Regions from separate parts of the Homo sapiens genome. Here region 2 is linked to region 1. Evidence: fine-mapped expression QTL. Tissue or cell type: cerebellum. Region 1 holds a variant in brackets; the other region holds the start of a gene. All regions are shown on one strand. Distances are from middle to middle.

Region 1 (2,759 bases):
AGGCAGGAAAATGGCATGAACCCAGGAGGCGGAGGTTGTGGTGAGCCGAGATCGCGCCGCTTCACTCCAGCCTGGGTGACAGAGCAAGACTCCGTCTCAAAAAAAAAAAAAAAAAAAAAGAACGAAACTCCATCTCGATAAATAAATAAAGATATATAAATATCTTTTGTATTTGTCCCCTCTCTCCAACTGCTGCTTTTTTTTCCAGTTATGATACCTTCCCTTTCACTTTCTACTTCTATGACTCACACAGTGATGTGATTTATGACAGCTCAGAGAGACTTCCAGTTTTTCATGGTAGATTAAACAGAAGCATTTTTATTTGCTCACTCCTGAAACCAAACAAAAATGATATTGAGTAATTAAAAAACACATAAACACAAAAAGAATGAATGGGGGGGAAATAACAGATAAAGATTATTAACAAAATAAAATAAATCAATAAAATAAAATTTAGAAAAGTGGAAAACAGATGATGGAGTGGTAACTTACTTAGCAGACAGGAGAAAGCCAAAAACCTACAGCTTTGTTAGCAAATTCTTTTGTGTATATTTCCTGCAGATGGATATTCTCCTGCACAGTCAAAACACTGCCATCAAAATCAGGAAGTTGACATTAATACGTTACTACTACTTAATCCTTTTACCCTATTTAAATTTCTAGTTGTCCCAATAATCTCTTTAATACAAGAGGAGCTAGTCCACAATTATACGTTGCATTTATTTGTCATATCTCTTTACTCTCCTTCCATCTGAAATCGTTCTTGACTCTTTCCTCGATTTTCATGAACTTGACAAGTCTGATGACTATAGAACAGTTATTTTGAGGAATATCCCACCATTTTGGTTTTTCCAGTGTTTTCTCATGACTAGATTTGGGTTGTGAATCATGGAAGTGATGCTGTGTTCCCATGGCATTCCATCAGGGGATTCTGATGTCTATTTGTCCCATTACCAGTGATATTGAGGTAGGAGGCAAAACTTGACTCCAGAGGCAGGGCTCAGATTCAGGACCAAATTGAGGACTAGCAAAAACAGGTTCCCAGGGGAAGCAGCTTTCCATAAGATACACCCATCCGTATGCCATATCAGTTTACCATTGCCATGGCAACACCTGGACATTACAAGGCCTTTCCATGGCAACGGCCTGATGACCTGGAAGTTACCACCCTCATCCTAGACATTTCTGCATAAACTGCCCCTTAATTTGTGTATAGTTAAAACAGGCATAAATATTAGTGCAGAACCACCTCCAAGCTGCTTCTCTTGGCACACTGCCTTTGGGGTAA[C/G]CCTGCTTCACAAGGAGCTGCACCTTTCCTGCTGCTGTATGCTGCCAAGTTGCTGTTTAACACCACCTGCTAACCCTTGAATTCTTTCCCAGGCAAAGCCAAGAACCCTTCTGGGCTAAGCCTCAATGTTGGGGCTTGCCTGTTCTATGTTAGTATTATGTTTGGTCATTTGATTAAGAAGGTGTTGGCCATGATTCTCCACTGTAAGTGACTGTTTTTCCCTCTGGAATTAATACTAATATTAGTTTTTGAAGAGGTAAGGTAAACCTATGTAAATATCTGTTCCTCATCTAACTTACAATTTATTCACATTGGTATACATTTCTTTATACCAAATGTGGACTCATGGGTTCCTGTTTTATTTGATGAGTTATAATTTGTTACGATTACTTTTTTTTTTTTTTTCTTTGAGAAGGAGTCTCGCTCTGTGTCACCCAGGTTGGAGTGCAGTGGTGCAATCTCAGCTCACTGCAATCTCCGCCTCCCGGGTTGAAGCGATTCTCCTGCCTCAGTCTCCTGAGTAGCTGGGACTACAGGCACACGCCACCACAAGTGGCTAATTTTTGTATTTTTGGTAGAGACAGGGTTTCACCATATTGGCCAAGCTGATCTCGACCTCCTGGCCTCAAATGATCTGCCTGCCTTGGCCTCTCAAAGTGCTGGGATTACAGGCATGAGCCACCGTGCTTGGCTATAATTTGTTATGATTACTACTAATTTTGATGTTGTTTGTCTCAGATTTGACCAGCGGGGAGCCCATTCCAACTGGATTCTATGCCCTTTAACAGAGCCCCATCATTATTTTGGGGACTTCCTTATTTTTTTGCACAAAACTTTCCAGGCTCATTTTGTGCATCCCCTGTCCCGGTTTGCAAATTATTAATTTCATCAAAAAGCCTCGGATATTTTTGTTTGTTTGTTTTTGGTGGAGAATGGTTTTCAGAAATCAAGATTGGGTCTTTAGGTGTGCTCAATAATATTGAGGTGTTGACATGTTCAAGTCTTGTCAGTGGGCAGAACTAGAAATTACATGTATGCGTATGTATATATCTTTCTATAAAGCCATGAATTCACACCAATTCCAGCTATTGGTTCACTCTTGCTTTCTGCTTTCCATATTTGTAATTCCCTTCTCTGACAATGAGAAAGCTGGTCTCTACTATCATTAATATTCTTTTTTATTTATTTAGGCAGGGTCTTGCTCTGTTGCACAGGCTGGAGTGCAGTGACATGATAATGGCTCACTGCAGCCTCAACCTCCCAGGCTCGGCGATCCTCCCACCTCAGTCTCCCTAGTAGCTGAGACTCCAGGTGCACACCATCAGAGCTGGCTAATTTTTTATTTTTTTGTAGAGATAGGGTTTCACGATGTGGCCCAGGCAGGTCTCAAATTCCTGGGTTCAAGCAATCCCGTGACCTTGGCCTCCCGAAGTGCTGGGATTACAGGCATGAGCCACCACGCCTGGTCAAT
Region 2 (2,759 bases), 27 kb after region 1:
ACTCTGTCTCAAAAAATAAAAAATAAAAAAAAATCCAAAACATCTTCAGATTTTAATGCCTGATTTTAAAGAAAGGGGTGGCAGGGAAGGAAGAAACCCAAATAGGGTAGTTGCTTTAATCACTGTTACCACTAATTTTCTGAGAGCAGCAAAGCGCGTCTAAGAACTCCAATAAATCTATACTAAATTTTATATGTCCCATACATATTTTCTGGGAAAAAGGGCCCTTGAGCTTTGAACACAATCTCAAAGGAAACAGTGACTAAAAAAGGTTAAGAACCTCTTGTTGAAGGGTTTGCTTTATTGAACGGAAGAAACAGTTCTCCCTCTCCCCTCCACGCTAGGTATAACCAGCCTTCCGGATGTGCCGCCTTTGGTATCACCCAAGATCTCGGGATGGGTACCCATCCCTGCCTCCACTGCCTGGTTTGCTGGTTACCCTGCTCTTTGGTTCTGTTTCTCCATGTGTGTTTCTGCAAGCTGCCTCAATGTCCCCCTTCCTCGGCAGTTGTCCTACTCTGTGTCCCTGAAATAAGAGCGGTTCCTCAGCGGCTGCCTCATTTGGGTGAGACCCACGTGACACTCATCACATTTGTCAACCTCCCCTTTTTCCTCTCTACTCTTTTGGGGCCACTGGCCTTTGTCCCGTGCCGGAGAGGTAGCCCCCCCATCCCCCGACTCTTTACCCTCTTCCTGGTTGGGTTTGGCAGATACTTTCACGCATGTCCCGTCATGTTCCTGTCCTACCATTCCCAGGTAGTGTGAAATTCTTTTCCTGGCCCACTCGAAAGATGTGAGAAAGAAATGGTGCCTGAAGTGCGCTCTCTGATCCCCCGAAAAGAATATTACACATAACTACTAAGCGCTTTGTGTTTGGGTCCATGATTCCGACATATGACGTGGAGAAGCATAGTGCCCTGCACCTGCCTTGACCATGGCCTCCTGAGAGTCCCCAGGGCCACCAAGCCCCCCATTCCAAGTGCTCTCCTTGAATGTGACTCGGCTCTTTCCACAATCCGCCCAGCCTGGGTTAGGGAATGGGAGCTCTCTACTATATTCTTCTCCACAATATTCTAAAACCTCCTCTCTGTCCTTCTAGAGAGAGCGCAAATGGGTAAGTTTTTTCCCCCTAAAACTTGCTTAAAATCAGCGCGTCGGGCCCCGGGGCGCCCGGGATGTGAGGGCGGGGAGGTGGTTGTCGGGGCGGTCCGCGCCCCCACGGCGAGGTGCACGGAGTTAGCTCGGCCCAGCAAGCGGCGGAGGGAGGCCAGCGAGCGGGGTCTGCGAGCGGAGGCCCGGGCGGCGGCGTCGTCCCCGGGGGCAGGCAGGCCGGCCGGGCCCGGGCCAGGGCGCTGCGCCGCGGCCTCCGCGCCTCCTCGGGGCGCCGCGCGGCCAGGCCGGCGGCGGCCCCCGGGGATGGCGGCGGCCGGGCTCCGCCAGCAGGTGGCCCTGGGGTCCCAGCGGCACCGCCCCCTCCGCCGGCGCCCCTCCTCCCGCGGGGGCGGTCAGCGCCCCGGCCGGCTCTGCACCCGCCGCCGCCCTCCCCGCAGCCCGCCCGCCGCGTCTTCGGGGCCGCCGCCGCCGCCGCCGCGACCGCAGGCTGAGCCCAGGCGGGCCGGCCGCCCCGAGCCGCCCCCCGCCTCCGCCGCCGCCGCCGCGCCCCGGCCCGGCCCGCTCCCAACGGAAAGTTGGGCTGCGGCGGGCGGCGTCTGGAACCCGCGGGCCGGCATGAGCGGGGGCCGCGGGGGCGCCTAGGGCACCGGGAGGCGGCGCCGCGCGGGGGCAACTTCGCCCGGGAGCCCACGCCGCCGGGCCCCGCGCCTGCAGCCCCGAGCCGGCTCGCGGTGGTTCCTCCCGTCCCGCGGCCTCCCCTCGCCGACTCCAGGCGCGGACCTTGGTCCCGGCGGCTCCGCCGCGGTGACACGAGCCCGCGCCGCCGCTGCCGCTGCCGCCGCTGCCGCTGCCGCCGCTGCCGCCGCCTCCTCAGCCCCCGCCGCCGCCTTCCCCGCACCATGGAGTTCTCCGAGAGGAAAAGAAGCAGGAAATCCCAGAGCTTCAAACTGGTGAGCCGAGGTAAGCGGCCGCCGGGGCGGCGGGGGCAGGCAGCGGGCGCCGCGCCCTCGGCCGCCCGCGGGGGTCCACGCTGGGGGGCGCGCCCTCCCGGAGCCCCCGGTCCTTCCCGGTCCCCCGGTGCCTCCGCCGGGCTGGCAGGCAGGGCCGCGGCCGCACACGCCGGGCGGCGGGGAAAGTTGTGCGGGGGGAGCAGGGATGTTATTTAACGTAAACAAGTCGGAGGGCAGCTCAGGAAATTAGCAAACAATGACACCGGGGGGCCCGAGCCCTCCTCGGGGCGCCTCCGGGGCAGGGCTGGGGCGGCCGCGGACCTGCCTGGCCATCAGGCCGAGCGTGGACCCTCGGACCTGAGATTTGCTGTTTTTGTTTTCTGGGGTCTTCCCCCTTCCCCCCGCCAAGAGAAGGAGGAAAAAGGATGACCGTTGTTGTTCTTTTTAAGAAGGAGAAAGAAGCTCACGCCGTGTCCAAGCCCAAGGCGGAATTGTTGACATCCAACATCTCTAGCTAGCTGATTTGGGTTGGAAAGGTGTTTTAGACTAGATCATATAGCAGTCAGATAAGCATCCTTTAAAAAAAAGAAAAAAGAAAAGAAAGAAAAGAAATCCATCTAGTTTCTGACGAATTAACAGGTGTACACCACACTCTAGGGTTTGTATTTTGTCAGGGAGGGGAAAGTGGAATACAGT

Alleles and levels. Positions count from the first base shown, and alleles are read on the strand shown. Sizes are in standard deviations (SD) of each study's normalised expression.
With allele C in place of G in region 1, the expression in cerebellum of the gene that starts at base 1,532 in region 2 is lower (large effect, 0.91 SD a copy in GTEx).

The links. PIP is the estimated chance that this variant, and not a neighbour inherited with it, causes the effect.
Region 2: it holds the start of BEND7, and the variant in region 1 is fine-mapped to the expression of BEND7 in cerebellum (GTEx, PIP above 0.99). The same link has a PIP of 0.9 or more in cerebellar hemisphere and esophagus mucosa.

The regions. Positions count from the first base shown.
Region 1 is chr10:13,554,672-13,557,430 of GRCh38, reverse strand. It overlaps LOC105376422 (a long non-coding RNA gene), which reads right to left. Exons shown (of 3, transcript XR_930675.1): 3 at 261-332. Among named protein-coding and RNA genes, the nearest start is that of BEND7, 27 kb to the right of the region's middle. The variant C/G (reference allele first, on the strand shown) is at 1,289.
Region 2 is chr10:13,527,787-13,530,545 of GRCh38, reverse strand. It overlaps BEND7 (BEN domain containing 7), which reads left to right and starts at 1,532. Exons shown (of 9, transcript NM_001369863.1): 1 at 1,532-2,073. The coding sequence starts at 2,013. BEND7-DT (BEND7 divergent transcript) reads right to left here and starts at 1,942. Exons shown (of 2, transcript XR_930674.3): 1 at 1,894-1,942; 2 at 282-526.